Linked DNA regions of Homo sapiens. Changing the gene in region 3 together with the main gene of any one other region gives a genetic interaction. Each region holds a gene or a part of one and is shown on either strand. Other genes may lie near its edges. The genes, in order: PRKCA, ATR and ATM.

Region 1 (11,472 bases), on a different chromosome or scaffold from region 3:
AATTCAATAGATTTTTTTCCTTGCCTCTCCCCAGTTCCCTGTGTTCTTCTTCTGCTGAACATCTATAACAGGAATTCAGTTTCCATTGCTCCCTGACCTCCATTCCAAAGAAAAGGCAGTGGAAGGAGCTGTCAATGGAGAGAAAAATGTGTTTTCTTGTGGAAAAAGTAGAAACAAGATATAAAGTCTTTGCGGTCTAGAAATCAGAAGGTGGCTCTGATTTGCCTCCAGGGTGAGGAGGAAGGTGGGTCCCAGCAGGTCTCTGTTCCTCCTGGGGAGTTATCAACTCTGTGTCTTAAGTCACCATTCCAGAATGACATGCCCACAGAGGCCCAGCTAACCTCTCTGCTGAGCTGCTGGTAGGAGGGCTTCAATACACACCTATAAATGATTCCTCTTTTATGAAGAAAGAACAATCCGATGGAAATCTCTGCCGCATAGAATCTGCAAAAGAAAACGGGCTTCAGGTTTCTCACTTGCTTCCTTAGATGCCTGTATACTTTACATTCTCAAATTCAAGCATCAAAGAGAGAAAAGAATGTCAGACCCAGAGGCTCTCAGAGACCAGCATCGTGTTCTTCCAACCCCCGGTCCTCCCTCCATCACTTCGTCCTCCAGCTTATCCGTGAATGAGACAGCTAATAAAACCAATGAAACCGGCTTCTTATTCTCTTATGGGGAAGGTGGACAAGTAGCTTATTGCCTGCAGAGTAATTTCTCATACAATCATTTAAAGAGTGGATACCAGTTAGACTATTCTATATCAGGAGTATGGCGTAAAGAAAATTTCCATTTTCCTATTCACTGGCAGAATACACTGGTGTTTGAAAATACAATACAATTACTCCCTGGAAGGCAAAGTATAGTGGGTGATGAACTCTTTAGCTAGTGTTTTCATTCCTTGCGAGTGTTGGAGAGATTCATATCTGAGTTTACTCTTTTAAATAATTCATAATAAAAAGCAGTAACTACCATCACTTCAAAATTGTTAATACATTAATAGCTGAAACTCAGATTAAAAGGAGGCGAATATTTAAAAATCTGCATAGCATTCAGGAGTCTTTGAAGTCGAAGAAGCCACAAGACTGTGCCTGTGGAAATATCACATGCAGGAGGCTCAAAATAAGCACACGTGTCTACACGAGCAGAGAGGAAAAAAAATCTCTAATGATCAAGACCAAACCCTTAACGAGGGGCCACCTCTGAAGGCTAGAAGAGTACAGAAAGGGGGAGGGTGAAGAGATGGGATTACTACAGGTGATCTTTACATTATTTTTCATGCTTTTCTAAACTTTTCTGCAACACAAATAATATAATGAAAGGATATTGGACCAGACACCTTTATGTTACTTTATAACATAGGGTGACTCTGCTATCTGCTCTTTACAGTCCTGTGTGACCAAGCTTTATTTTACAATCTGAGTATTTTAAGGCTTTATAACTACAACATAAGACAGAAGAAAAGGACAGGCATTTCTGAAAACTGAAAAGGAACAATCAATAAAGGCAGAAAAATCCCCCTTCACACTTTTAAAGCTTGCAACCAAAGATTTCCCTATTCTGCCTTCAGTTAATCTTCCCTAGGGTGCATAATCCCTCGCAGGCCAAAAATTCTTCCAATGTGTCTCTTAGATGGCACAGCAGCCAGAATCCTATTAACAGGTGCTGACTTCATTCATCAGGGTACATGCCCCCGAGGTTTCCTCACTGCGGAACTAAACTCGCCCTTTGTTTAGGCTTGCTCCACTGGTGTTTCCTGAGACTTCCTGGCCCCTGAGAGGTGAGATGATGTTTTCCAGCACCAAAGTTCCAGCTCCCCACACCCCTCAGATGAATCTCTCATCTTCACCTGGAGCCCACGTCTTCCTCCTGTGCTGCCGACTCCCGCATCCCATCATGCAGGTGCGTTCCAATAAAACGTTCTTAACTGAGCTCATGAATCTCCCCCCTCAAACCACCTCCTCCTTGGTGGCTGCCCCGACCCAAGCCTGAAATGGGGTCTCACTGGAAGAGGTTTATCTCTTCTCTCCTCCATAGTCAATAAGTTCTGCTTTTCTTCCTCCAGGGTGTTTTTCAAAGACACTTATTCCTCTTTGGCTCCAAGGTCTAGCCCTAACTACAGCTCCATTCCTTCTTATCTATAAAGGGTCTCACCAGCGCCTGCACCAGCCTCTACCATTTCCTTTCATGCTTCCTTCTTCCCCCAGAGAGCTCTGCAAAAACTGAATCTGATGGTGCAAGCCCCACTGCAGTGCCTTCCCTCTTCCCTCCTCCACAGCCAGGCTCCTTACCAGGCTCTTCACCCAGAGCCCCACCTACCACGTTCCCCCCTTCCCCCGCCCCTCAAATAATCTCACAGCATCTCCCACACCTGCTGAGCTGCAAGGCTGCTTCCCTGGACTTGCTTCTGCCTCTGTTCACATCTCTTCCTGGAAGGCTCTTCCCCCACCTCTGAGCCGGTCATTTCGTGGGGTTGCACTTCCCTCTCCCCGATTTTTAGGGGCTTACGTGTTATCCTGGTATCCTGCGCAAGTCTCTAAAGTTACAGCAACGCACTATTAATTGTTAGGTGACTTCTCCACCTCCAGGGTGGAGTGTAAACTCCCTCTGGAAAGGGAGCACCTCGTTCCTTTCGCAACCCCAGTGCCTGGTGCAGAGCAGGTGTGTGATAACCATTTGTTCAACAGATAAGAATAACTCCATCAACAAGGGTGGACCTGGGTGATGATGGGATATGGCAACATCTCCAGTTTATTGGAAATACTGGAAATAGAATAAACTGCTCCTTAGGAACCATCTTAGATGGATCCTACCAGTATATCTGCCCTCCGCCTCCCATGTTTAGGTTTATAACATTCAACCTAAAACTGGGCAGAATCCCACTTTCCCATTTCACCCAGCAGAAGTTCCCAGTTGGGGCTGGGCATGGTGGCTCACTCACGCCTGTAATCCCCGCACTTTGGGAGGCCGAGGTGGGCAGACAGCTTGAGCTCAGGAGTTCGGGACCAGCCTGGGCAAGATGGTGAAACCCCATCTCTACCAAAAACAGAAAATTAGCCAGGCATGGTGGTGTGTGCCTGTAGTCCCAGCTACTCAGGAGGCTGAGGTGGGAGAATCACCCGAGCCTGGGAGGCAAAGCCTGAGTGACAGAGTGAGACCCCCAATCTCAAGCGGGGGGGAAAAAAGGAAGTTTCCAGTTGGTAGGACTTGGTTGTTCAAATTAAAGGACTTAAAAAATAATACTCACACTGCTTGTGGTTCCTTAAATTTTCCTACTTGCTGAATGTGGTACATGAGGTCCCCACCGTTGACATATTCCATGACGAAGTACAGCCGATCCTGCAGACCAAGGTTCAACACATGAGCAGGGCTCCTCCCCAGCCAAGTGGCTTCCTTTGCTCTTCACAGGTTGTGTTTTGCTTTCTCATTAGTTAAATGGGGACTGCATGGGCAGATGTGCTCAGTTTAGAGCTCTTTCACATTTTTTTCCAAAGAAAGAATAAGTAATAAACCCTACTGCATGAGGGCCTTGGGAAGTATAAAGTCATTACATAACCCTGAAATAATGGCTCTCCATCAACGTGCCTTCCTGTTACATATGCTATTATAGTAACGGCCTTGAACATTCTTCCCTATCTTCCTATACATATAATAAATTTCTAAGTAAGGGATGGTGTGAGGAATCCACATAAGGCAATTATTTCATTTTAACTAGTGCTTCTCCATGGTCCAAATGTTTAAAGGCTGGTTTGCAGTGTCTGGGAGGCGTGCCATACTAATGTAGTATCGTGTTTAAATGGATACTCCTGAAAACACATCTCTCAGGCTTAGGATTACACATGCTCAATATATTTACTGGACATGGGACAGGGGACTCTAGATGGAGATGCTAATCAAATGTTCTTTTGCATCTGTAATATGCCCAAACACTGTTTTTCTATTTTCTCTGTCACTGGTAGGCTAAGTGTTGGCCCCATGATGGGCATGTATCATAGACCCAAATAAATCTGCATATTCCTGAGGACATTATGCTGGGACAGATAGGAAGATGGAGGGGTTTAACAGTGAAATAATGACCTCTGCTCTCTGCTAGAAAACATCCCCATTTCACAGAGGATATTAAACATTAAAGTGCTGCACAGGGAGAAAAAAATGATGAAGCTGGTGCTAATAGCCAGGAAGCAACCCTGGGAGCCCCAGTCTCTAGCTTTCCTGTTATGAACTTTAATTTCATCTTCATTTCTTTGTTTTGTAGCTTTCCAGAGCTTAATCAGGGTAACCAGGGTTACAGGCTCTGGGCTGGGATTCAGAGCTGTGGTTGTCTCTTCCGAGCATGCTGCTCTCATCTCTCCCTGGCGTGACTTGATTCAGAGTCAGTGGGAACGGCTGGGAGCAGGAAGCTCAACGTGCCGCCAGCGCTAGGCTGACACGTAGTGGCCGGCGCCTGACTCCGCGGCCACTGCTACACACCCAGAGGCTCCGGGTGGCTGCAAAGCCATTTTGAGATTCTAAAACACAAAAGCACTGAGAGGTTCCTCCCAAGAGTTTTCAAAGAGGCATAAGACAGAAAGTCAATCTCTGATCAATGGGCAGTTGAAAATAGTAATAATCGCATCAATTACAGCTACTGATTATGGAGTCATATTTTAAATGGGCAGCCTCTGAGGAGTGGAAAGACCAGCTTTGGCAACGTCTCACTATGGTGGCATCTAAACATCTATGTTTCTTTTTTTTCTTTTTAAGACAGAGTCTTGCTCTGTTGCCCAGGCTGGAGTGCAGTGGCGCCATCTCGGCTCACTGCAAGCTCCACCTCCCGGGTTCACGCCATTCTCCTGCCTCAGCCTCCCGAGTAGCTGGGACTACAGGCGCCCGCCACCACGCCCGGCTAATTTTTTTTTTTTTTTTTGTATATTTAGTAGAGACGGGGTTTCACCGTGTTAGCCAGGATGGTCTCGATCTCCTGATCTCGTGATCTGCCCGCCTTGGCCTCCCACAGTGCTGGGATTACAGGCGTGAGCCACCGCGCCCGGCCATGTCTGTTTCTTGTAGGCCACTTGCAAGCCCTGCAACGGACTGATTAGTGCTTTGGAATGTCCTTTTTTGTCCTCTGTTTAGTTTTACTTTACGACAGAGCTCAGCAAACTTTTTCCACAAAGGGCCAGACAGTATGTATTAATATTTTAGGCTGTGAGTGTCTCTTGCAGCAACTCAACTCTGCCTTCATGGTGCAAAAGCAGCTGTAGATGACAGGTACACGAAGGAGTGTGGTGATGTCCCAAAACAGCTGTTTATGGATGCTGAAATTTAAAATTTGACCTAATTTTCACGTGTCACGATATATGACTCTTTGGATTTCCTTGTTGTGACCTTTCCTAAACTCACAAGCCATAGAGAATAGGCCACAGTTTGCCAGTCCCTGTTGTGTGGCATTGAACAAGAACATGCTCTTTTACAAAATCAAGTCTCCTTATGCTCCAATGCCATGTTTGGCAGTGGAACCAGTGGTCTTAAAAAGCCAAGACTGTGGCCAGGTGCGGTGGCTCATGCCTGTAATCCCAGCACTTTGGGAGGCCGAGGCGGGTGGATCACCTGAGGTCAGAAGTTCAAGACCGGCCTGGCCAACATGGTGAAACCCCATCTCTACTAAAAATACAAAAATTAGCCGGGCGTGGTGGCAGCGGCCTGTAATCCCAGCTACTCGAGAGGCTGAGGCAGGAGAATCCCTTGAGCCTGGGAGGTGGAGGTTGCATTGAGCAGAGATCGCACCATTGCACTCCAGCCTGGGGAAGAGAGAGTGACTCCGTCTCAAAAAAAAAAAGCCAAGACTGTGAGTTTTTTTGTTTGTTTGTTTTTGTATCCCAAAGTCTGAGCACAGTACCAGGCATGAAGAAAACCTTTCATGGAAATGTTTGCTGAATTAAGGCCAGGCACAGTGGCTCACACCTGTAGTCCCAGCACTTTAGGAGGCCAACGTAGGGGGATCGTTTGAGCTCAGGAGTTTAAGACCAGCCTGGGAAACATGGTGAAACCCCCGTCTCTACTAAAAATACAAAAATTAGCTGAGTGTGGTGGGGTACATCTGTGGTCTCAACTACTTGAGACTGCAGTGGGCCGTGACTGTGCCACTGCACTCTAGCCTGGGCGAGAGAGTGAGATCCTGTCTCAAAAAAAAAAAAAAAAAAGAAAGAAAGAAAGAAAAAGAAAAAGAAATGTTTGCCGAATTAAATGGCATGAATGCCAAGCAGAGGACATCACAGAGAAGGCATGCCCCAAATCTACCAGTGAGAGAGGTGGGAGGTGGTCCCCAGTCACCTCTGCTTGACATCACAACACACCTTTCTCCAGCCTTCTCCAAAGGAACAAGGATGCTAAGAAGCTTTGGGCTGAGGCGTAGCTCTGAGAGCTGGGTACTGCATCGCAGGGATTCCCAGGGTCCTTACCACTGTCTGGAAGCAGGAGTGCAGCTGCGTCAAGAACGGGGGTTTGTCAAGCAGGGCCAAGACTCGCTTTTCTACCATGGTGCACTCCACGTCATCATCCTGAATCACCACATCCTTCTTCAGGATTTTGATTGCATACAGTTCTTCTGTGCCCTTCCTGTCGGCAAGCATCACCTGAGAACACGTCAAGAACAACCTGAACACTTGTAAGCACATATCTTGGGGGGCAGAGGGAAGGAACCAGGCCAGGTGACGGCTCAGTGACAGTTTGTGCACCTTTGTCAATGTGGAACATAAAAATATTAAACTTTATGTGCAAATTTGTAAATTCTACACATCACTACAAATTCAGTCCCTCCAGCATTTGCAAAACTTCAATGCTGCCAAGATTTGTAAATGGTATAGGCCACTGCCACATAATGGCACTATTTTGGCTGCTAAAATGAATACTCAACATTCTCTATCAGGATTAGTCTGGAATAATGCACATTTTTCAGGAGTATCCTTAGAGTGAAAGCTGACTGACATTTATAATCTCTCAAGTCAAGAACCTAGACTTGAAATCAGTTCCTGCGTCTATGAAATGTGGGGCCACAGAAACCGAATGGAGATACAGGCAAATTGCTGAAGACCCCATGTCAGTATCTCTTAATGATTGTATTTGCTTACTACAAGTGAACATTTAATTTTTAGTTGTGAAAACTATTCATCAACCAGCATTTCTGAGCATCCCTTCTGTTCTGAACACTGAGAAATAGTAACAACACAGTGAACCCACTATAGCTTTTTGGATGCAGTTGCTTTTAAGGAAGTAGAAACCAGGTGAGGACTGTGCACTCTGATCTGAGAGACCAAATAAATGCCTCTTTAGCGACTAAGATGGACCCTAATGTCGCAGGCATTTGAACCAGAGTGACTCCATCTTGAATAAGGGATGGGAAAAATAAGGCTGAGATCTGCTGGGCCGCATTCCCAGGAGGTCAGGCATTCTTAGTCGCAGGATGAGATAGGAGGTCAGCAGGGCTAGTATCACAAGACACAGGTCAGAAAGACCCTGCTGATAAAACAGGATACAGTAAAGAAGCCAGCCAAAACGCACCAAATCCAAGATGGCGATGAGAATAACCTCTGGCTACCCTCATTGCTCATTATATGCATTATTAGCATGTGAAAAGACACTCCCACCAGCACCCCAACAGTTTACAAATGCCATGGCAATGCCCAGAAGTTACCTTATATAGTCTAAAAGATGGAGGAAGCCTCAGTTCTGGGAATTGCCCACCCCTTTCCCAGAAAACTCATGAATAATAAAACCCTTGTTTAGCATACGATCAAGAAATACCTCTAAGTATACTCAGTCAAGCAGCCCATGCTGCTGCTCTGCCTATGGAGTAGCTGTTCTTTCATTTCTTTACTTCTCTAACAAACTGACTTTCACTTTATTCTGTGGACTCGCTCTGAATTCTTTCTTGCTTGAGGTCCAAGAACCCTCCTCTTGGGGTCTGGATCAGGACCCCTTTCTGGTAACATTAAAGTTAAGGAAATAGTTATCTATGGGTTGAGGGTTCAGGGCCCAGCTGGCATGGCAAATTTCTAAATCCCTACAGCTACAAGATAAACCACTCTCGCTAAACTCCCTAGCAGTAGGAGCTATCAGGCCCCTCCTAACTTTGATTGACAACTCAGATCACTATGACTTGGACTGGACAGAGAACTGGCCTTACAAACATTCTTTTCTGTGATGCAACTGCAGACCTGAAGCCAGTTTCAGCAGCTTGCAGAGCCTGCACACAAACTGTTTTTGGGTCCTGTGGTTCACCTTTTGATCTAAAGAGCCAACTTCCACCTTTTTTTATTTATTTACTTTTTTTGAGACGGAGTCTCCCTCTGTTGCCCAGGCTGGAGTGCAGTGGCATGATCTTGGCTTACTGCAACCTCCACCTCCCAGGTTCCAGCGATTCTCCTGCCTCAGCTTCCCGAGTAGCTGGGATCACAGGTGCACACCACCACACCCAGCTAATTTTTGTATTTTTAGTAGAGATGGGGTTTCACCATTTTTGCCAGGCTGGTCTCAAACTCCTGACCTCAAGTGGTCCACCTGCCTTGGCCTCCCAAAGTACTGGGATTACAGGCATGAGCCACCATGCCTAGGCAAATTCCACCTCATTTTAATGCTAAGTCCCCACCCCAAAGTGAACATAAGATGCATGTTACATATATGTTCATCCATTGTGCCTGTGCTAGGCTTCCCTCACAGATAAGTCAAGCTTTCCCCCCAAACCTGTTGAATATGGATGACTCTACTGTGTAACATGGACCCTGTGAGGCATAAAACCCAACCTGCCCTTTCTCTCCTCAAAGAGAGGGCACCTTCATTTCACACCATAGACTTTCTTTTATGGGTTTGCAAACTGATACCACCAATAAACCTCTCCTTTCTACCATTTAGCCATCCTGGTGGTCTTCTGGATGACTGTACAAATCACAGGGAAATCTTTTTTTTTTTTTTTTTTTGAGACGGAGTCTCACTGTCTCCCAGGCTGGAGTGCAGTGGTGCGATCTCGGCTCACTGTAAGCTCCGCCTCCCAGGTTCACGCCATTCTCCTGCCTCAGCCTCCCAAGTAGCTGGGACTACAGGCGCCCACCACCATGCCCAGCTAATTTTTTGTATTTTTAGTAGAGATGGGGCTTCACCGTGTTAGCCAGGATGGTCTTGATCTCCTGACCTTGAATCACAGGGAAATCTAATGTGCTATTCTGCAAACTACGAGGAGAACAAAACTGATTCGACATTCTCTGCAGAAGCCCCTGCAATTTGCAGACGACTGTCCTCTTACCTTTCCAAAACTCCCCTTTCCCAACACCATGAGGAAATTGAAGTCCGTGAGTTTCACTCGGTCAAGGTTGTTGGAAGGTTGTTTCCTGTCTTCAGAGGGACTGATGACTTTGTTGCCAGCAGGGCCAAGTTTGGCTTTCTAAATAACAAGCACAAATGGGAAACACGTGGGTCATTTTTCTGGGGAAAGAGTGACAGAAACCACCGTGTTGTAACTGAGTTTAATGTTTGCTTGGAGGTGGGATGGGGTGAGAAAAGGAACAAAGGGTGAGAATTGAGTACCTGTTCAGATATCAGCAGCTACACTCACCCTACAGGGAAAGTCAGCAAGGTAGCAGAAAACTGCTCTCCCTATTAAGAGACAACTCTTTACACAGTCAACCTAGAATTGATGCGTGGGGATCCGTGAAGGGCTGGTTGGTTGTAATTCCAGTATGTCAAAGTCGACTTCTTGGGAAAAACAGTGCTTCGGGTCCATGAACATAATAAAGGAAATAAACTGTGTACTGATGCTTTTTGTATTTGTAGATTTTCCAATTTAAAATTAATCTGCATAAAGGAAAACTTGTACCCACACCAAAAGGGAGGAAAATGTTCTCTGGAGAGGAACTGCTTAAAATGGCAAAGCCATTGGGATGATTCATCGCTATTTTCAAATGCACAGTAAGAACAGGGGTTGGGTTGTTTTTTTTTTTTTGATTTTTTTTTTCTTTTAAATCAAGAGTTGAACTCACAAAAAGACATGGTGATGTGCATAAGAAGAGATCCCAGCACTCTGGGAGGCCGAGGCGGGTGGATCACCTGAGGTCTGGAGTTTGAGACCAGCCTGGCCAACATGGTGAAACCCCGTCTCTACCAAAAATACAAAAATCAGCTGGGCATGGTGGTGCGTGCCTGTAATCCCAGCTACGTGGGAGGCTGAGGCAGGAGAATCGCTTGAACCGGGGGGCGGGGGGCGGAGGTTGCAGTGAGCTGAGATCGCGCCATTGCACTCCAGCCTGGCGACAGAGCAAGACTCTGTCTCAAAAAAAAAAAAAAAAAAAAAAAAAAAGAAAGGGAGCACAAGGCGCCCTTTGCGCCTGAAGAATATCTGGTCACTGCCTGGTGGGCGAGCTACCAGAGGAGTTTTTAGAAGCTCTAGAGGGGGCCCTGCCCTCACGACTCTCACCAGGGCCTCAGAGTCCATGTCAAAGGCAAAAGGTAAAAGGGCTCAGCAGAAAAAGGAAGGTCAGTAAACCCACGGGAAGTCTCACTGTCACCGAAGGAGCCCTGGAGAAGCCTGGAGTGGGCTGAGTCTCCCAGCACAAGACTCCGAATTTTGAACATCTGCCTGACGGGAAGGAGCTAGTTGTAAGAAGCGTCAGCTGCTGACAGGTCCAGGACCCTGGTCCCTGGCTAGACCTCCACAGCCACATCCCTGAGCCCTAGGGCAATGATTCTTGCCTTGGATACATTCTTTTTTTTTTTTTTTTTTTCTGAGACGGAGTTTTGCTCTTGTTGCCCAGGCTGAAGCGCAGTGCAGTGGCGCGATCTCAGCTCACTGCAACCTCCGCCTCCCAGGTTCAAGCGATTCTCCTGCCTCAGCCTCTTGAGTAGCTGGGATTCGCCACCATGCATGGCTAATTTTTTTGTATGTTTAGTAGAGATGGGGTTTCGCCATGTTGGGCAGCCTGGTCTCGAACTCCTGACCTCAGGTGATCCGCCCACCTCGGCCTCCCAAAGTGCTGGGATTACAGGCATGAGCCACCACGCCTGCCCATTCTTAATGAGAGGGTGCACCTCCCTCCCTAGTGCAGCAGACCTTAGCTCTGGAGCTCTTTCCAGGAACTCACTCCAGTCAACACCTTGGTGGTTACCAAGATGATGGTGAAGGAGATAAGGAAGGCACTCAAGGGGCTTTACTATGGATCAGCAGCAGAGAAGGCTTCCGAGGAATCATCCGTCGTCCCTCTTGGAGCACCACCATGCCTTCATCCCACAAGTACTGATTGAGCCCCCTTGTGCTCTCTTGGGGAGCCTCTGCATTTGCAGGAGGAGCCCCTGCTGATACAGGAATTCAGCAGGACTGGTTTCACAAGATACAGGTCACAAAGAACCCCTAATACAACAGTCTGTGGCAAAGCCAGCCAAAACCCGCCAAAATCAACAAGGCAATGAAAGCAGTCTCAGGTCTCCTGGCTGCTCATCGTATGCTAA
Region 2 (11,472 bases), on a different chromosome or scaffold from region 3:
CGTTGCCCCTCGCTCACCCACCTGATGCTCTTTCACCACTTCGCTGAGACAGGGATACCGCTCTGAGATCCATCTGTAAAACTTGGGGACTCCCATTTCGATCGTCAACACTAATCCCAGTCAGGGCCAAACCGAAACCAAACGCCCCGCCGGGGCTCCGCCGCAGCCTCCGGTCGTCGCTCCGCGGATGACAACACACCGCCCGGCCGACCATAGAGAGCGCCCGGCGGGCCTAGAGCGGCAGGATCCGAGGCCGTCCGAGGGGCGGGGCTTAGCCCTCCGGGCCTCGCGCGGCCGGGGCCGCGGTACTGTCCAGTGGCGGTCAGGGAATCTGCGGAGGTTTGCTGGTGTGTTGCAACTTAGGGGCGAAAATGCCCCATGATAGAGTTGTGCTTTCTAAGTGGATTTGGAAGTGGCATGAAAACCGTACGAAGGTGTGGGAAGGGTATCGAACACTGATTTTTGTTCCGCTTGTCTCCTAGGGTTGCTAATCTCAGTATTTTTCATTCAGATTTCGAAAGATCTGGTGATTTACTTGGCTTAGTTTGTTGTTTTGTCAATAATTTTTTTTCTCTGAGGAATTTAAACTTACGTTTCTTAATACATACGTTTAAAAACGTTCTTTTCCAAATTGTTCAAAAAAATTTCCCATGTACCCGCCCCCCGCAACTGTTAACATAAGACCTTGGATACGAAATCATTTAATGTTTAGTTTTGACATTCTTGCATCCGGGTTTATCATATTTTTCCCCATCACACTTTCAACCGCACAGCAAAGGAGAGTTCTATCAACTTAAGTGAAATTATCAGTTTTAAATGTAAGAGTTTTCCACTTATTTGAATGTATTAACCCGTTACTTTGTATTTAAGTCTTCTGGATGAAAACTTACAGAAAAACCTTAAACATTTAATACTTTTTGGATTTTAAGATCTCAGGAAATGTTAAGTATCGCTGTCTTTCATGACCACTGGATTCTGCATTCTGGGACTGCAGTATGGCAGCATCACACAAATTACAGAATGTTTATTTCGTTTTCACATTCACGCTTCTTGGCTTATATTTTTTCCCTATCACACTTTAAAACAAAGTTTTATTAAGTGAACTTAATGATATGCTATTTATATTTATATATCTCTCTTACTAGACTGTCACTTCCTGGAGGGCAGGAGAGGGTAGCTCTATGCACAAGTCTGGCACAACGCCTTGCCCACAGTATTTATTCCATATAATTTTGTTCTTCAAGTGAATCCTTACAATAGCTAGGACTTTTAAAAGGAAATCAATAGAAGTTGTAAAATGAAATTAGACTTGCTTGTTTCTTGCAAATATAGTTTTTGACCATAAGAACACATGATATTCTATTTCTCCAATTATAATGCACAGTATGTATTAAGAAAGCAGTTTATTTCTTAATAACTGAATGTATATTATTTTACATATAATTAATGATCAGAGAGAAATAACAGTTGCTGAGAACGTAAATTTATGTTGTACTTTAGAATTGAACAGATACAACCACAGATTCATACCAAATGCATTACTTTTAGATTATTAACATATTCTTTTACATAATTTCATTTCACATATATGGAGTCCAACCAAGATACATCTGGCATAGTAAGTTTTCATCAGTAGCTTCCTGTATAAGGTAATGCACATGTCCTTCAATAGATAACGGCAGTCCTGTCACTCTATTTCGAGTCTTGATTACACCTTGTAGTCGCTGCTCAATGTCAAGAACATGGGTCTTGGCCTAAAAAGAAGAAACATAAAACCAAAAACAGATGTTAATAATTTGGAATTACTACCTTTCTTTATATTTTGACATTTAATAAATGTTAATACCATTTTACTGACCAATACCCCTTTTGTAAGAGCAAATACAGGAAAAGAAGAAATTAAACAAATACAGTTAGCTTGTGATACTGATTTGGAGGCTCGCAAGATTGATTCAACATCAACTGCTTGGACATGTTTCTGGACTACGTGAAATACCAGGGAATTATTTACACATTACAATTCTAGAAAAATAATTTTTTAAATCTGCTTTGGAAGTGTTTAGGACTTAAACATTTCAATGAATATTCAAATAACAATGCTGTACTGCCTAATATTTACATTATGTTAGTACATGCAAATGGGTGTTCTAAGTGAGCTACTTGGAACTGTACAATTTCTTAAGCATATCTGAATGCAAAAGGAAGAATAACGTTATTAGAAGAATAATTCTCAGAGGTGGTGCTGGGTGGGCTGGTGGGCTGCGCTGCAGCCCACGAGCACAAAGAGGAGGGCCACGGGGTGGAGACTGTTGCTGTGCCATCTGCCATCGACTTTTCCGCCAAGAGCCTGGACTCCAAATATGACTTATGTTCCAGCAGAACTCCAGGTATTAAAATAACCCCTACAACAGCCAACTTTCCCTTTTGCAGTTGCAAACCAGCTGCCGCTTATTTCTTTGGTGAAGCACTTGAGCCATGTGCGTGAACCAAACCCAGTTCATTCAAGACAGTGTTTAAGTTACTTTGCCAGACCTTTATCAAAATGGGGCTGCTGTCTTCTTTCACTTGTGACAAGTTTAGCTCATTGAGACTACATCACCACAGAGCTATTACTCACTTAATGAGGTCCACTAAAGAGAGAGTTCATCAGGATCCTTGTGAGGCTATTTCTCATATCCAGAAAATCAGATCAAGGGAAGTACCCTTTGAAGCACAAACTTCACGTTACTTAAATGAATTTGAAGAACTTGCCATCTTAGGAAAAGGTGGATATGGAAGAGTATACAAGGTCAGGAATAAATTAGATGGTCAGTATTATGCAATTTAAAAAATCCTGATTAAGGGTGCAACAAAAACACATTACATGAAAGAACTACGGGGAATGAAGGTGCTGGCAGGTCTTCAGCACCCTAATATCATTCGTTATCACACTGCGTGGACAGAACATGTTCAAGTGGTCCAACCACAAGCAGACAGAGCTTCCGTTCAGTTGCCATTTCTGGAAGTGTTCTCCGACCAAGCAGACAGATACCAATACGGTGTTAAAAATGGTGAAAATAGCAGCTCACCCATTATCTTCGCGGAGCTCACCTCAGAAAAGAAAAACCCTTTGCAGAATCTGACACTCAAAATCAGAACAACAAGCTGTGAACTACACCATCAATTCCGTCTTAAGAGACACCAGTGAATATGAATCATCCCTGGAGCTCCAGGAAAATGGCCTGGCTGGTTTGTCTACCTGGTCAATTGTGAAACAGCCCCTGCTGCTCAGGTGTAATTCCCTCCTAGAGGAGAATTTCACATCCACTGAGGAATCTTCCAAAGAAAACTTCAACTTGTTGGGGATCGAGGTGCAGTACCACCTGATGCTGCACATCCAGATGCAGGTGTGCAAGCTCCAGCTGTGGGACTGGCTAGCTGAGAGAAACAAACAGGGCCAAGAGTGTGTGGGCAAGTTTGCCTGTCCTTATGGCCAGTGTTGCAACAAAAAATTTTCAAGATTTAGTGGAAGGTGTGTTTTACATACATAACATGGGTATTGTAAACAGAGATCTGAAGCCTAGAAATATTTTTCTTCATGGCCCTGATCAGCAAGTAAAAATAGGAGACTTTGGTCTGGCTTGCCCAGACATCTTACAAAAGAACACAGACTGGACCCATAGAAACAGAAAGAGAACACCAACACCTATATCCAGAGTGGGCACTTGTCTGTATGCTTCATCCCAGCAGTTGGAAGGATCTGAGTATGATGCCAAGGGTCTCACTCTGTTGCCCAGGCTGGAGTGCAGTGGTGTCATCATAGCTCACAGCAGCCTCCAACTCCTGGGGTCAAGTGATCCTCCCACCTCAGCCTCCCAAGTAGCTGGGACTACAGGAGTGTGCCACTGAGCCCAGCTAATTAAAAAAAAACAAAAACTATTTGTAGAGACCAGGGCTGGCTTTGTCCAGTTAGATATGTATATAGCTTGAGTGTGATCCTGCTAGAGCTCTTTCAGCTGTTTAGAACAGAAATGGAGCGAGCAGAAGTTTTAACAGGTTCAAGAACTGGTCAGATATTGGAATCCCTCAGTAAAAGGTATCCAGTACAAGCCAAGTATATCTATCACTTAACGAAAAGGAACATGTCCCAGAGACCATCTGCTCTTCAACTGCTACAGAGTGAATTTTTCCACAATTCTGGAAATATTAATCTCACCCTACAGATGAAGATAATAGAGCAAGAAAAAGAAATTTTTCTTTTAGTTCTTTTAGAAGAACTAAAGAAGCAGCTAAACCTTCTTTCTCAAGACAAAGGGTTAAGGATGACATGAAGGATGGGGGCGTACAGGTCTAGCCTTCCTCGAGCTATATCAGTAGGATGAAAGTGGACTTAAACTCTTTAGGTAGTTAACTGGAATGTAAATTTTTAATCTTTATTAGCATATAGTTGGTATAATTCATTGTATTTAGTAAGCCTGTACAAGACTTATTAAAGATGTAAGAGTGCCCCCCACCAAAAAAAACGAATCCTCAATCTATTCTAACTTATTAAAAACAACTATCTGAGCTAGGCACAGTGGCTTATGCCTATAATCCCTGCATTTTGGGATGCTGAGGTGGGTGGATCACTTGAAGCCAGGGGTTCAAGACCAGCCTGGCCAACATGGTGAAACCCATCTCTACTAAAAATATAATAATTAGCCAGCTGTGGTGGTGCACGCTTATAATCCCAGCTACTTGGGAGGCTAAGGCAGGAGAACTGCTTGAACCCAGGAGGCAGAGGTTGCCGTGAGCCAAGATCGTGCCACTGTACTCCAGCCTGGATGACAGAGCGAGACTCTGTCTCAAAAACAACAACCACCACCACCACCACAACAACAACAACAAAACTATCTGCAAACTTTGCAGCTTCAACTAAGTAAGAAGTGAATTGCTGCATTTGTTAACATAGCTTGTGACATACTGGTATCATGATATTAAAGCTCAGACCTGTTGTTCTGTAAGTTCAGGCAATTTGTACTATAGTTTTTCCTACTGTATCTCATAACTGTGAATTGTCTATGGTTAAACAAGTGTGCCATGAACTTTTATTATACAAATGCGAATACTGTTAACATTACTGACAATAAAGAAAACTTATGGCATTGTGATACTAGAGAACTAGATTTCAGAGTAATCAATAGTCACTAACAGTATTTCCAAGCAGTTCTCATGCATAGAGATGAGAACTATAGCTGCATATCAAGTTCATTTGTAGAGATGAGGACTACAGCCCATATCAAGCTATACCTTCTACTAACCTTTTCATTGACAACTTCTCCAGTTTCATTCAGTGGCGCTTTGGAATGCCCTTTCACTGGTTTACTCCATTCCACAAGAGGATCATGTAGAAAAGTCTTTAAGACACTAAAATTGAAACAAATATTATGGTATGATGTTATCTTTGCAAGAAGAAATCTTGCTGACATCAATATTTAAGTGAAGGATGAGAAGCTAATGGTAATACTCTTATAATACACATTACTACGTCTTCATTAAGTTATGTGAAATTTCTGTTTTGGTGTGAGGGGAGGGTAAGAGAAGGGAAGGCAGGAAAAAAGGCAAGATAGAGGGGAGTCAGAGGTGTTTTGGAGAATAGAGTAAGATGGGTTCTATGTGCCATCTCTAAGTGTATACTGTGAACTGGTAAATGACTATATTTTGAATGAAGGAATTTTATCCCTTACCATGTCTTCAATAACGATATAACATCTATAGCTACCATATAGACCTAGCCCAGACCTTTTTTCTGCACCCTAAACATCAAATCCAATTACCTATGGGAAATACCCAGTTGGATATGTTCCAAACACCTCAAACTCAGTATCTCCAAAATAAAATTAATTACCTTTTCCCAACTATTTCTCCTGTATTCCCCAAATCATCATCCACCCATTTGCCCTAGACAAAAATCTAGGAATCATCCTCACCCCGTCTTCCTCTAACATGCAATTACAACTCCTAAATCTCTTTGGAATCTCTTCAGTTATCTCCGTCTCTACGGCCGTGACACTATCCAGTACACCATCATCCTTTCCTGGGTTACTGCAATAAACCTCTAACTAGTTTTCTGGCTGTTGGCCCAAACTAGGACCCTATTTTTTCTACAGTACAAATCAGATTATCTCTTTCCACCCCTTGCCCCCTTTTTATTCCTTCTTAAAATCCTCAATGACTTCTGGTTGCTCTGCAGGCAAAGTTATAATGTAGTAACAGGCCCCATGTGAGACCTTCATAATCTAGCCCCTGCTTACCTGTCCTGCGTCATCTCTTAGCACCACCTCCTGGAAGTATACCCTCTGGAATACATACTGTATTTCTCAGGCAGGCCATGACTTCACTTGCCTTGATATTTTTATCACTCAGAACACTCTCTTCTCCCTTGCATGGTCAACTTTATTAACTTTTAAGGTCTCAACTACTTCCTCCAGAAATTATTTCTTGACTGACCCAGACTAACACAGGGGCTCTTGGTAACTGTTCCACATGATGATATACTTCCTATTTCAGAGAATTTGCTTTTGCATATGTCCAACTAACCAGTATTCTACCATAATGTCTGATAGACAGCTTTTTTTTTTTTTTTTTTTTTTTGAGACGGAGTCTCGCTGTCGCCCAGGCTGGAGTGCAGTGGCGCAATCTCGGCTCACTGCAGGCTCCGCCCCCTGGGGTTCACGCCATTCTCCTGCCTCAGCCTCCCGAGTAGCTGGGACTACAGGCGCCCGCCACCTCGCCCGGCTAATTTTTTGTATTTTTAGTAGAGACAGGGTTTCACCGTGTTAGCCAGGATGGTCTTGATCTCCTGACCTCGTGATCCGCCCGCCTCGGCCTCCCAAAGTGCTGGGATTACAGGCGTGAGCCACCGCGCCCGGCCCGATAGACAGCTTTTAAATAATGAAGGTGAATAAATAAGCTTTAAAAGTCCTTTCAAACAATCTGTTTCCCACAGCTAACATCATACTTAAAAGTCAAAGACTGACTGCTCTACCCCTAAGATCAGGAACAAGACAAGGATGTCCACTTTTAGCATGTCTATTCGACACTGATTTAGTTAGGGCAAGTAGGCAAGAAAAAGAAATAAAAGGCATTGATATTAAAAAGGAAGAAGAAAAACTGTATCTGCAGGTGACATGTTATTGTGGAGAGAAAATCTTAAGGAAGGCACAAAAATAATTATTAGAACTAATACATGAATTCAGCAGATTGTAAGATACAATATCAATATATAAATATCAATTATATATCTATGCACTAGCAATGAACAATCCAAAAATGAAATTAAGAAAAATTCCATTTAGAATAAAATCAAAAGGAATAAAATACTTAGGAATACAATTTTTAAAAGTTAAATATAAAACTTGACCCTAAAAACCACAAAACATTGATGAAAAAAATAAAATTCAAATAAATGGAAAAACATTCTATGTTCATCGATCAGAAGACTTAACATGGTTAAGACAGCAATACTCCCAAATTGTTAAGACAGCAATACTCCCTAATTGATTTACAAATTCAATGTCCTTCCTATCAAAATCCAAGCTGATTTTAAAATTAATATGGAAATACAAGGGACCCATAATAGCTAAATGATCTTGGGGGAAAAAAAGCAAAGTTGGAACACTCACACTTTATGATTTCAAAATTTACTACAAAGGTACAACAATCAAAACACTGTGTTGTTAGCATAAGGTTAGGCATATAGATCAACAGAATATTGCTGAAAATCAATTGACCATTTCAACAAAAAAGCCAAGATAATTAAACGAGGGGCAAAATATTCTTTTCAAAAAATGGTGCTGTGACTAATGGATATGCACATGCAAAAAAATGAATATGGACCCCTACCTTACACCATATCTACAAAATAACTGAAGACAGATAAAAGATTTAAATAGCAGAGCTAAAAGTCAAAAATGCTTAGAAGAACACATAGGTGTAAATCTTCATGACTTTGGATTAGGGAATAGTTTCTTAGATATGACAACAGAAACACCAAAAATAACCAGAAGAAAAAAACAAATTAGACTGCATCAAAATTTAAAACTTTTATGTTTCAAAGGCCATCATCAAAGAAAGTGAAGAGACAACCCACAGATGGAAGAAAATATTTGAAAATCATATCTTAAAAGGTCTTGTATCCAAAATGTGTAAAGAACTCTTGCAACTTGGCTGGGCGGGGTGGCTCATGCCTGTAATCCCAGCACTTTGGGAGGCTGAGGAAGGTGGATGGCTTGAGCTTACGAGTTCAAGACCAGTCTGGGCAACATGGCAAAACCCCTTCTCTGCTGGGGAGGCTGAGGCAGGGAAATCACTTGAACCCACGAAGCGGAGGTTGCAGTGAGTGGAGATCACGTTACTGCACTCCAGCCTGGGCGACTCTGTCTCAAACAAAGAAACAAACTCTTGCAACTCAAGAATAGGCCAGGCATGGTGGCTCATGCCTATAATCCCAGCACTTTGGGAGGCCAAGGTGGGAGGATCACTTGAGGTCAGGAGTTCAAGACCAGCCTGGCCAACGTGGTAAAACCCAATCTCTACTAAAAATGCAAGAATCAGCCAGACATAGTGGCTCATGCACACATGCTGTCCCAGCTACTTAGGAAGCTGAGGCACGAGAATCGTTTGAACCCAGGAGGCAGATGTTGCAGTGAGCCAAGATCACGCCACTGCACTCCAGACTGGGTGACAGAGCGAAACCCTGTCTCAAAGGAAAAAAAAAAAGAATAAAAAAACCCAATTTAAAAGTGGGCAAAGGATTTCAATAGACATTTGTCCAAAGATGATCTACAAATGGCCAACAAAGACATGAAAAGATGCTCACCATCACTGGTCATTAGGGAAGTGCAAATTAAAACCACAATGAGATACAACTTCACATCCCTAGAATGGCTAAAATAAAAAAGGCAGACAATAACCAGGATAGATAAAGATGTTATCTAAAGATAGAAAAGATGCAGAGAAGTTGAAACCCACATACATTACTAGTGGGATTATAAAGTGTTACAACTGCTTTGGAAAATGATTTGAGAGTTCTTCAAAATGTTAAGTACAGCATTTAACATATGACCCAGCAATTCCACTCCCAGGTATACACAAGAGAACTGAAAACATATGTCCACATAAAACTTGTGCACAATGTTCACAGCCACACTATTTATAATACACAAAAGGTGGAAACAATCCAAATGTCTCTTAACTGATGAACAGAAAAAGAAAATGTAGTATATCCATATAACAGGATACCATTTGGCAATAAAAAACAATGAAGTACTGATACATGATGAACACTGAAAATATTACATTAAGTGAAAGAAGACAAACACAAAAGGCCACATATTAGATGATTCCATTTATATGAAATGTCCTGAATAGGTAAATCCATAGAGACAGAAAATATTATAAATGAGTGGTTACAAGTAGATAGCAGGGGTGGGAGGGGGAAGGGATCAGGAGTGACTGCTAATGCCTACGGAATTTCTTTTTGGGCTGATGAAAATGTTTTAAAATTAGATAGTGGTAATGGATGCACAATCTTGTGAATATACTAAAAACCACTGAATTATGTACTTTTAAAGGGGTGAATTTATGGTATATAAATTATATCTGCATAAAGCTATTATTTAAAAAAACTATTTCAGTCAGTACAAAGTGGTTTCTACATAAAAACAAACATATGTAGGGGCCAATAATTATATTCGAGGTTACTGTTAAATTATTTACAAAGTATAGGTGATTACCTCATTAAAGGCTCTCGCTGATCACGCATCAGCCTCATTGTAACTTCACATGCTCTTCGAAAAAGACCCTCTGTTCCCATAGGACCCATTCCATTAACCATATTATGAGTCAGGCGAAATGGCACAATTTCTGGAACTTCAAAGGTTTCTCCCTTAGAAACAATACATTTTATTACAAACTAACAATGTTAGAATTTAAAAATCTTTACTCAAAGAACTTCATGTCCAGATTCTTTTAGCAAAAAGCAAAAATACCCTCAAAATATTTATGTTGTAATTACTTTAGAAGTTTGTAACATGAAGGAGCCATGTAGCTCTGCCTTTGCTTTTACAGAACTGAAACCATACTTGATCTTGGATAAGATCTAGGAGATAAGTGGACTTACCTTTCACTGAGTTTAGTACAGTGAATAAGCAGTATTACAGAGAAATTTTATGCATTCAATATTTAGTCTCATATTAACTTCTTTAATGTCTTTCTTGAATAATATGAAATACAAATATTCTCATATATTTCTACTTTTCTTTAACACTTTCATCTTAAAACAACAGAAGCAGCCAAGGGTCAGATGCTCACATCCCCTCATAAAGGAAATAAAACATGTCATATAATGAAGTCCAGTTGTTCATTTTCTGCTGTCCTCTAATCTGCCTTTTCTAGGGACCTTTCATCCCTTGTCCAATCAGTTACCCTAAATTCCTCTCTTGTATGGTTTAACCCATGCCAGTATTTTATCTCTGATTTGTTCTCAGTTGGATCTATGATCTTTCTTGGTTTCTTGTGACAGCACAAGGCAACCTGTAGATGATGGAGGTGAAGAAAATAGTGCGCTAACCTACCAGTCTGCCCTGCAGGATTATAATATTGGAAAATTGTAGGGGGCCTTAAAGATGGGTCCAATTGCCTCAATTTATTCCCAGGTCCCACTCTGGACCTACAGAATCTGAATCTCCTGGGTATCTATAAATTTTTTTTTAATTCTTGGATAATTCTGATATGTTGCTAGAATTGGAAACTATCGTATTAAACTACTCTGTCTCTCTAAAACTGAGTCTCAGTAAAATGAACTGATCTGCCCTTATTCACATAACTAATAACTAATTGAGTCAGAACCTAAACCTATGCTCTTGGACTTCAAATTCAGTACTAGCTTTACAGTATCACTCTTCTAAGTTCTCTCCATCCTAATACGCATTACTACATGATCCACTGATGAAAACTAGTCAACAAATTCTCAGTATAACTCAACTGTGAGTATAACTGCTACTAACAGGTATGTCAAGGAAGATACAGTTGTTGAGAAAAGGAAATTGAGAGAAAACACAATTAGTAAGAGTAACTCATATCACATACCTTATTGAAAAGACAATTGAAATCTACATGTACGCATTCACCAGTCAAAGAATCAAAGAGAATATTTTCACCATGACGGTCTCCAAGCCCCAGAATATAACCAACCATTGACATTACTGCAGTGGAACGGCAGTAAGCTGATCTACTACTGTACCTAAAAGAAACACAATGCCTATGAAATATCCATATACATATGAGGCCAATATAAATCTAAAATATTAAAAATAAACATTCAACCATAACAACGTATTATATTCTTGGTAACTTACCATGATGTAGGATCAGGGAATGTTCTCAGAAACCACTCATGAAAAATAGGAGGATGCCTGGGCAGGAGAAATTCTCGGAATACTTTGAGTTTTT
Region 3 (9,135 bases):
TAAATCAAAATATTTGGTCCTAAATTAAACTGGATTCAGAACTAGAATACTTGGTACTGTTTATATTCCAAAAAATCTAAGGAAGACAAATGTGATCTGAGTGTGACTGTGATCTTGATTCCTGAGAAGTCAGTGTACAATAAAATGAAGTAATTGCTTTTCCCCATAGGCCAAAAGTAATATTTAGTGTATACTACAGCAGAGATTGACTGTATCTATTATGAGTCTTATTATTTTCCTGCAGGAGAAACATTTTATCTCTAACCTTCAAATTGACTAACAATATATAGCTTGTCAACTTAAATTTAATATTAGGTGTCATCACTATAATCTAAGGTTTTCAAAGAAAAACTTATACAATACTGCTGTCTTGACATTTTCTGAAAAATATATTTTCTCTACTTACAAAAGTAATTTATTGTAAAAATCCCATATTTCTGCAGCAGGGGGAAAACCCACCTGTGATCACATCATCTTTAACTGCTTTCTAAATCCTCCAATCTAATGCCCCATTCTAGACCCTCTCCTATGGTAACTGCAAAGACATAGGACCAAGCTAAATTCTATCACCTCCACACAAACTTGCATCATTTACAGCTTGTCAGCTTATATAATACAAAGGAACTTTTGTAGAAACAAGACTAGAACTTGTAAATAATCCTAAATATGGATCAAAGTTTAGAAAACTACAAAATGCTACTTATGTGTAGAGCACTGGACCAAGTGCTAGGAATACAAAGAGGTATACACGATTCCTGACATCAAGGGGCTTATGTCTAAGTTTTTCAAGCACAGGGTAGAATATTGGGCTGAGTAACACTTGCCTTCATCATGCCATTGACTTCAGAAACTCCAGAATTTTCAAGCCAGAGGGAACAAAGTCGGAATACCCACATATCATGTTCTTCTCCACTTAATAAGCAGTTGATATAATTTTCAACTGCTTTACATAAGAAGCGTTTACGATCCTCTTTCAGTGCACGCAGGGCTAATTCATCCAACTCCAGCTCTCGCTGAACCTTTACTGTGTATCTTGCATAGAATAATTAAGGTAAAACACAAAAGCCATGAACTTTAACAGAACTACAAAATCACACATGATATACAACATTTAATGAAAAAAGTTGGGTTTTTATCCCAGGGAAAAAAGCAAACTTCTAAGGATTATAAAGGGAATAAACTTACTTTTGTCTTAACTGTGCAATTCACACACCTTCCTAAGCATCAAAGGACAAAGGGGACTCTCCCCAAGCTATTTAGCTAACTTACACCTCTGCTTACACTAAAATATACAGATTCAAGACAGGCTTAAATAAAGGGATTTAATTACATCAAAATAGGTAACTTTTGTAATTAATTTCAATATCTATCTCCTTTTCCACTATGATACCAACAAACAAACCAAAAAAGCAAAACAGAAAGCTAATATCTATATTCTCCACAATGAACTTAGAAGCAGAGCATGAATTATTCACAAAAGAACACGTCAATATCTTACATACTAATTTGTGATTAACTACAGTAGGACCAAGACAGACAGGGCACAGTGCCTCACACCTGTAATCCCAGCACTTTGGGCGGCCAAGGTGGGCAGATCGTTTGAGCCCATGAGTTTGAGACCAACCTGGGCAACATGGCAAAACCCCATCTCTACAAAAAATACAAAAATTAGCCAGGTATGGCGTGCACCTGTAGCCCCAGCTATTTCGGGGGCTCAGGGGGAGAATCAATTGAGTCCAGGAGGTCGAGGTTGCAGTGAGCTGGAGTACAGTGATCACGCCACTGTACTCCAGCCTGGGTGACAGAGTGAGACCTTGTCTCAAAAAAAAAAACAAAAAACAAAAACCGAAAAGAACCCAAAAGACCAAGATAATCTATATATAGTTAAGCCGACCTTTAGAGCTCAAAACTATATCAGATAAAAAGACCAAGTCACTCTTTCTATGCAAAAACACTCACTCAGTTAACTGGTGAACATAAAATTGTCACTTGTAGAAACCTAGTTACCTGTTTGTCTGAATTTTATGTTCCCTAAGGAGACCTACTTCCTCTTTGGCTCTTTTCAGGAGAGCTTGCTTGTTTTCAAATTCCGATGATTTCATGTAGTTTTCAATTCTTTGGTATTGAGTATCTGAAAACCGGGCTAATGAGAGAAATGCCTTCATTTTTCCATTTCTTAGCTCATCACTACTTTCTCCATCATAATTTCCAGCAACTTCTACTGCCTTCAAGAAAACACAACCAATTTAAATTATATTTACAAATACTAAATACATCTAAAGAATCACTCAAATTAAGGTAATACACTAAAATTTAACTTATATACATATAAAAGCTAGCTAAATTATATGAACTATTGCAAACTTGTCCAACCCACGGCCCATGGGCCGCATGTGGCCCAGGACGGCTTTGAATGTGGCCCAACACAAATTCGTACATTTTCTTAAAACATTATGAGATTTCTTTTGTGATTTTTTTTAAGCTCATTAGCTATCATTAATGTTAGTATATTTTATGTGTGGCCCAAGGCAATTCTTCTTGCAATGTGGCCCAGGGAAGCCAAAAGATTGGACAGCCCTGAACTATGGTATTTTCTTGACTTTTCAAAACAACTTTGACAGTGTAGAAATAACCCAGACAGCTAATACTTGTAAAGAACTCTGCAAAAACAGAGAACTTTATAAAATTTAAAGACAATCAGGCTGGGTGTGGTGGCTCAAGCCTGTAATGCCAGCACTTTGGGAGGCCGAGGCAGGTGGATCACTTGAGGTCAGGAGTTCGAGACCAGACTGGCCAATGTGGCGAAACCGTCTCTACTAAAAATAAAAAATATTAGCCGGGTGTGGTGGCACACTCCTGTAGTCCCAGCTACTTGGGAAGCTGAGGCAGGAGAATCGCTTGAACCCAGGAGGCAGAGGTTGCAGTGAGCCGAGATTGCGCCACTGCACTCCAGCTTGGGCGACAGAGAGAGACTTCATCTCAAAGAAAAGAAAAGAAAAGAAAGACAATCGCATCATGTGTTTCATGTTACACTTATTTAGTGAGGTAACTATTTCCAAAATTAGTGAATCTAAAGGAATAAGAGGGAGAAACAGGAAAGTCAAAGGGGCTAGTATATTGAAGCCTTTACTTGTGGGTGGCTGGGCTAATGAAGAGCAAGGGCTGACTTGCCTATTCTTAATCAGTTATTTTTGTAGATGCATAAATGAAGAAATGATCAGAAGCAACCTGCTGAAAGGGTAGCTGGTAGTGGAGGTAGGAAGGAGGAAGAAGAGATACTATACTTGGGCTTACTTTCAAAATTGGCTGCTTTGTTTTGTAACAATGTTTCACTCCACCCTAGAGACTATACAGAGCTACAACAGTAATAATATATAGAAAAATAAAACCATACTTTTATTTGCTTTGGAAATATATTGATCTTGATGAAAAGATGAAGCATATTCATGCTAAGTAACTATCTTAAGGGTTGCTCCAAAAATCTTACCTTTTCTAGATAGGTCTGCATGATGACCGCAGGATTTTCTAAGCACGTTTCTGCTAACCAGTTGCCACAAACCCTCAGACATTCTGTGTATGTAAGTTTTAGGCTGGGATTGTTCTGTATAAGAAAGGCAAAATCTTAAAATATAATGCATTACCATGACTGTACCCAACTGCCCTTCATGTACGGGGAAAAAAGCAGGTTAAAAATGTTTTTCCTTGGTGGGTGGGAAAAAAAAAGTTTTTCCTCATCTGCTTTTGCCATACAACTATTTTAATAATCCCATGTAGGAAATGATCATCCTCTGTTTATTATTATTATTGCCATTATTGGAGCAAGTCACATTTATTGAGTACTTATATATGTCAGACACTTTGTAAAGGCTTTATATATATTAACTCATTTAATTCTCACAAGAATCCTATTAAATAAGTACTATTATTACCCCAATTTGCAGATTAGAAAACTGAGGTACAAGGAAGTTGGGTAACTCCAGACAGCACATACTTCAGGGCCAATACTATTAAGCAATATTTACACATATCATATTGGCACTCAGTGCTTTGGTATAATGATTTCTCTAATAACAGAAGATGCTATACAATGAGTGCCCAACATCAAAAAGTACAGTAAAGGCCGGGCGTGGTGGCTCACGCCTGTAATCCCAGCACTTTCAGAGGACAAGGCGGGTAGATTGCCTGAGCTCAGGAGTTCGAGACCAGTCTTGCCAACATGGTGAAACCCCATCTCTACTAAAAATACAAAAAAATTAGCTGGGCATGGTGGCATGTGCCTGTAATCCCAGCTACAAGGGAGGCTGAGGCAGGGGAATTGCTTGAACCAGGGAGGTGGAGGTTGCGGTGAGCCGATGTCGTACCACTGCACTCCAGCCTGGGTGACAGAGCAAGACTCCGTCTCAAAAAATAAATAAATAAATAAATAATAAAGCACAGTGAGCTGATATTCACTAAGCAGGTACATGTCTGTGGGACACCACTGTAGACAAACCTTGGGGACACCAATGCCTCTACTTTATCCAGTGTGTATGCTGGGTTTACAGCTGAAGTAGCAACATAAGTTTGCAAAAACCAACAGGTAATGTTAGATAAAATATTAGATGTGATATTTTCAAAGCATTTGGATTGACAACCTAATTGTCCCAACTTGCTTTTATTTTCTAATTTAGTTCTCTCATTCATTTCCTCTTCCCTTTTTTCACTTGTCATTTCAAATTTAGAGTAGCTATTTCATTCATTTCCCACATACCTTTCTTGAATTCTATAGGAAGTTAAAGGCTTAATACTGGGATATATTAAATGAATCGACCACATGATGGACTGATAGAATTGTGATATATAGGAAAAAGTTTCTAAACTTCATTTACAAATTAATTTTCAAGACTAGTTTTACAATATCTTGTTAATAAATTACTAATTTCAAGGCTCTAATAAAATTGTTATTAAAAATATTTTAAAGTACATTTGTGTTTTTTTAAATAACAGTAAAACACTAATCCAGCCAATAAAAAAAACAAACCGCTGCACAGCTGGCATCCAACTTCTTGATCATTTGCTTGAGAATACTCAGGGCAAGACTCTGCTCCTTTTTTGCCCAGAATACTTGTGCTTCTTCCAGCTGCCACTCAGAGACTCCACAGCTAACTGAATTGTACTGTTTAATTTGAAATATTGCCCTTTCAGGGAGCTGAAATGAAAATGACATATGGGAATAAATACTTTTACTACTGATACTACTACCATGAATAATAATAATAATGAAAGCAGCAACTACCATTCATTGAGGACTTAACTACTTGTCAGGGACTATCTTAAGGACCTCTCTGTCTGCATGACATCTCCCCACCCCACGTCTGCCTATCTGTCTGTCTGTCTGTCTCTCTCTATATGTATGTATGTGTATCTGTGTGTACATACACACAGTATATAAAATCACTGAATTGTTATCAATATAGTAAGTTACGTATCTTCTCATTTTATAACCAGGAAATTGAGGTTGAGAAAAGATTAAGTACCCTTGCCCAAGGCTTAAAAGTCAGATCTAATTCCAAAATGGGAACTCTTAAACAATTATTTTTACTATATATTAATAGAGATCTCTATCTCTTAATGACATTTCTTTTTCCCTCAGGCTTTCTGTTTTTTAAATAATAAAAGGAAAGTCAAGAGGTAAGATGACATAGTTTTAAATTGTATTTACCTGAGTGTTCTTGAAAGTTCTGGCCAGTATAGAGAGTTCTACAAGGTGTTTGGTGAGAATGTCCTTAATACATTCTCTTTGTGAGTTGTCCATTTCCTTTTCCATCAGGATCTCCAAAATGACTGTGCGTAGAGCCATGATAGGCTCCTGAAAACTAAAATCACTGTCCTTGAGAAGCTGGGAGTGTTTCTGCCACTTAATATATACTTCAGAGAGTTGTCTATGTGTGACTGATCTGAATGCCACGACATAGAGTTCATGTAAGCAAGAGAAATGAAAAAAAAAAAAAAAAAAACTATGTAAGTTCTGGAACTTACGATATAATATTATAATAATACAAAGGAACTTTTGTAGTGACAAGACTAGAACTTGTAAATAATCCTACATATGGATCAAAATTTAGAAAACTACAAAATGCTATGCGGTCAGAGCTCTTAAGAGTTATTAGCAGAGAGGTCACAGATGACAAACATCAAAAAAAATTTTTAATACTCTGACATTACAAAAAGCAGCCCTTCTAAATACTCTTCTGAAACAAGAACATATTCATCAGACCTATCATAAAGAATGCCTCCATCTTTAGTCCTGCTTCAATACTGCCTGTAGTAATGAGGACATGTCAGCAAGGAAATGAGGGACCCCCTACTGGGGATGACTTGATGCATAATTATAGCTGTCAAAAAAATCACAATCCAGTGAAGGAAAAGCTGGCATCTGGCAAAGGTTTCATTTACCAACATTATTAAAGGAACAGAAAAGGCATATTGCACAATTAGTTTATATGAATAGTATCCTTCCCAAATAACTGAACTATGAAATACTACCCAATCCTTCAGGGACATTTATTGAAAGAAATAAGAAAGAGGAAGCAGGGAGAGTAAGATGACAAAGTGATGACTAAGAAATGAAAGCTCTTTTAGTTGCTTGATAGGGAAGGAACAGTAACAAAAATGCTAGGAACCAAAACTTCAATTCCTCTCTAAATGACCCTACCACAGCAGGTCTCAAACTTTTTGCGGAACTCCTTTACAATCAAACAAATTATTGAAGACCCCAAAGAACTTTCGATCGTTGGACCATATCTACTGATATTAGATATGATATCATATTAGAAAGACTGAGAAAAATCTAAAATGTATTAATTTATTCAAAAATAATAAATCTACTATATATCATAAATAACAATTTTTAGGAAAAATAACTACAGTAGTTTCTCTGTATCTGCAGAAAATTGGTTCCAAGACACCTTGATAATGCTGATGTTCAAAGTCCCTTATTTAAAATGGCAGGGCATTTTCCTATTACACGTAACCTCTAGATTGTGCTTTTATTAAACATTTCCAAAAAGTATTACACATAACCTCTAGATTACGTGTAATAGGAGAATGTGCACAGGTTATACATAAATCTCTAATTACATATTATACCTACTATAATGTAAATGCTATGTAAATAAGTGTTATACCCTATTCTTTAAAATTTTTTTTTCAAATATTTTTGATCTGCGGTTGGTTGAATCCATAGATGGAAACCTGTAGATAAAGAATTTCAACTGTATACTTCCCAAAACAAAACAAAACTTAGTGAGCATGGCACTGTTTTGCATTTTTGCAAATCTCTTTAATGTCTGGATTAACAGAACGAGATGAATTCTTATCTCTGCTTCTGCATTTAGTTTGTTATTATTTAATGTTTTGGTTGATGTATATGAATGGAATGTAATCTGAGAGCATAAGCATTTGTGCACCAGTTCATCCAACCTTCCCTCTGCTTCTCTTCTTCCTATTTCTCTACCAAAGAAACAGCCAGATTATTCTTTAGGTGTTTCTTTTTAAAATTTATTTTTAATTTTTATGGATACATAATAGTTGTACATATTTATGAGGTACGTGTGATATTTTGATACAAGCATACAATGTGTAATGATCAAATTTGGGTAATTGAGATATCCATGATCTCAAACATTTATCATTTGTGTTGGAAACATTCCAAATCTTCTTTTGTAGCTATTTAAAAATATACAGTAAATTACTGTTAACTACAGTTGCCCTATTGTGCTATCAAACACTAGATCTTATTTCTTCTATTTACCTGTGTTTTTTCACTCATTAACCAGCCCCTCTTCATCCTCTCCCTCCACAACACCCTTCCCTGCCTCTGGTTACTACCATTCTATTCACTGTTTCTTAAAGAATTCTGTACTCTTTTCAGCAGGATAATCTTTCATTCAGAGGAAAAATTTCTTGATTTCTGGCAGTAAGTACTGCCAATGTACTTATGAATGAAAGCAGAAAAGACTTTTGTTCCTTTATTTTCCTCCTAAGCCACATTAATATGTATGTCTTCTGCTATGTCATTTTGAAAAAACTATTATTATTTTCTTCTGACTCTAAAATTTCCTTCTCTTTTCTACTTCCAAAACATATTCCAAATTTTATTTTTGCATAAAGGTAGAGTGACCTTAGTCATTTATATCCTCTTTCTTCCCTCGTATAATAATAATAGTAATTCAAAATAGCAGGGCTAAAAGGGGCTTTAGAGACCATCGAATACAAATCCCTGACTTTAGAAATGAGGAAACTGAGGACCCAAAACACTTTACTTTGTCATCCTGCCAGACTCAAGGCTGCCCTTACACAACTCTTCCACTTCTTTTATCTAGTAGCAAGGCAGAGATAAAATGACAGTAATGCAATGCAGTGCTAAAACCGAATGGAGTGTAACATGCTGTGCAAAAACATGAGGAAACAATTTTATCTGGGTGGGCCAGGGAAAAAGTTATAAAGAGAAAAGCACTTTTAAGCTGAATTTTTTAAACTTGAATTTTTACAGTGACTATTTTGGAAAATGTTTAATAAAAGCACAATTCTCTAGGGCTAATCAACTTATATCTTGATAAAAGGAAAGAATTTAGATCTACAGCATCCTGAGTAACTATACTATTTCATCTTCCAAAATCCCTGGATCATTTCCCTCTCACCATTATAAGAAGCAATTCCTTCTGAACACCTTTTACAAATTAACTGACATCCACTATCCACTGAATGTTTACTAAACATAATTATCAGTCACCAGAAGAGAAAACATTGGGGGCCGGGCATGGTGGCTAACGCCTGCAATCCCAGCACTTTGGGAGGCTGAAGCGGGTGGATCACCTGAGGTCAGGAGTTCGAGGCCAGGCTGACCAACAAGGCGAAACCCCGTCTCTATTAAAAGTAGAAAAATTAGCCAGGCATTGTCGGGGCACCTATAATCCCAGCTACTCGGGAGGCTGAGGCAGGAGAATCGCTTGAACCTGGGAGGTGGAGACTGCAGTGAGCTGAGATTATACCATGACACTCCAGCCTGGGCAACAGAGCGAGACTTGGTCTCAAAAAAACATAAAAAGAAAAAAAAGAAAACAAAACAAAAACACTAGGTATACAACAATAAAC

The links.
Region 1: changes in ATM (region 3) and PRKCA are lethal when combined (synthetic lethality), as found in Homo sapiens cells (one study listed by BioGRID).
Region 2: changes in ATM (region 3) and ATR are lethal when combined (synthetic lethality), as found in Homo sapiens cells (one study listed by BioGRID).

Annotation. Positions count from the first base shown.
Region 1 is NC_000017.11:66,730,631-66,742,102, reverse strand, and holds part of PRKCA (protein kinase C alpha type), read right to left. Parts: intron 9,416-11,472; coding exon 9,278-9,415; intron 6,615-9,277; coding exon 6,441-6,614; intron 3,340-6,440; coding exon 3,248-3,339; intron 445-3,247; coding exon 382-444; intron 1-381. UniProt on the Homo sapiens protein: Calcium-activated, phospholipid- and diacylglycerol (DAG)-dependent serine/threonine-protein kinase that is involved in positive and negative regulation of cell proliferation, apoptosis, differentiation, migration and adhesion, tumorigenesis, cardiac hypertrophy, angiogenesis, platelet function and inflammation, by directly phosphorylating targets such as RAF1, BCL2, CSPG4, TNNT2/CTNT, or activating signaling cascade involving MAPK1/3 (ERK1/2) and RAP1GAP.
Region 2 is NC_000003.12:142,447,849-142,459,320, forward strand, and holds the end of ATR (serine/threonine-protein kinase ATR), read right to left. Parts: coding exon 11,379-11,472; intron 11,264-11,378; coding exon 11,110-11,263; intron 9,908-11,109; coding exon 9,756-9,907; intron 5,386-9,755; coding exon 5,280-5,385; coding exon of another isoform or gene 5,208-5,279; exon of another isoform or gene 2,755-5,207; coding exon of another isoform or gene 2,725-2,754; exon of another isoform or gene 2,711-2,724; intron 1,755-2,710; coding exon 1,581-1,754; 3' UTR 1,387-1,580; downstream 1-1,386. Other genes in the region: XRN1 (5'-3' exoribonuclease 1), read right to left, coding at 22-96. UniProt on the Homo sapiens protein: Serine/threonine protein kinase which activates checkpoint signaling upon genotoxic stresses such as ionizing radiation (IR), ultraviolet light (UV), or DNA replication stalling, thereby acting as a DNA damage sensor.
Region 3 is NC_000011.10:108,322,111-108,331,245, reverse strand, and holds part of ATM (serine-protein kinase ATM), read right to left. Parts: intron 5,937-9,135; coding exon 5,702-5,936; intron 5,189-5,701; coding exon 5,021-5,188; intron 3,602-5,020; coding exon 3,488-3,601; intron 2,226-3,487; coding exon 2,008-2,225; intron 1,033-2,007; coding exon 825-1,032; intron 48-824; exon of another isoform or gene 1-47.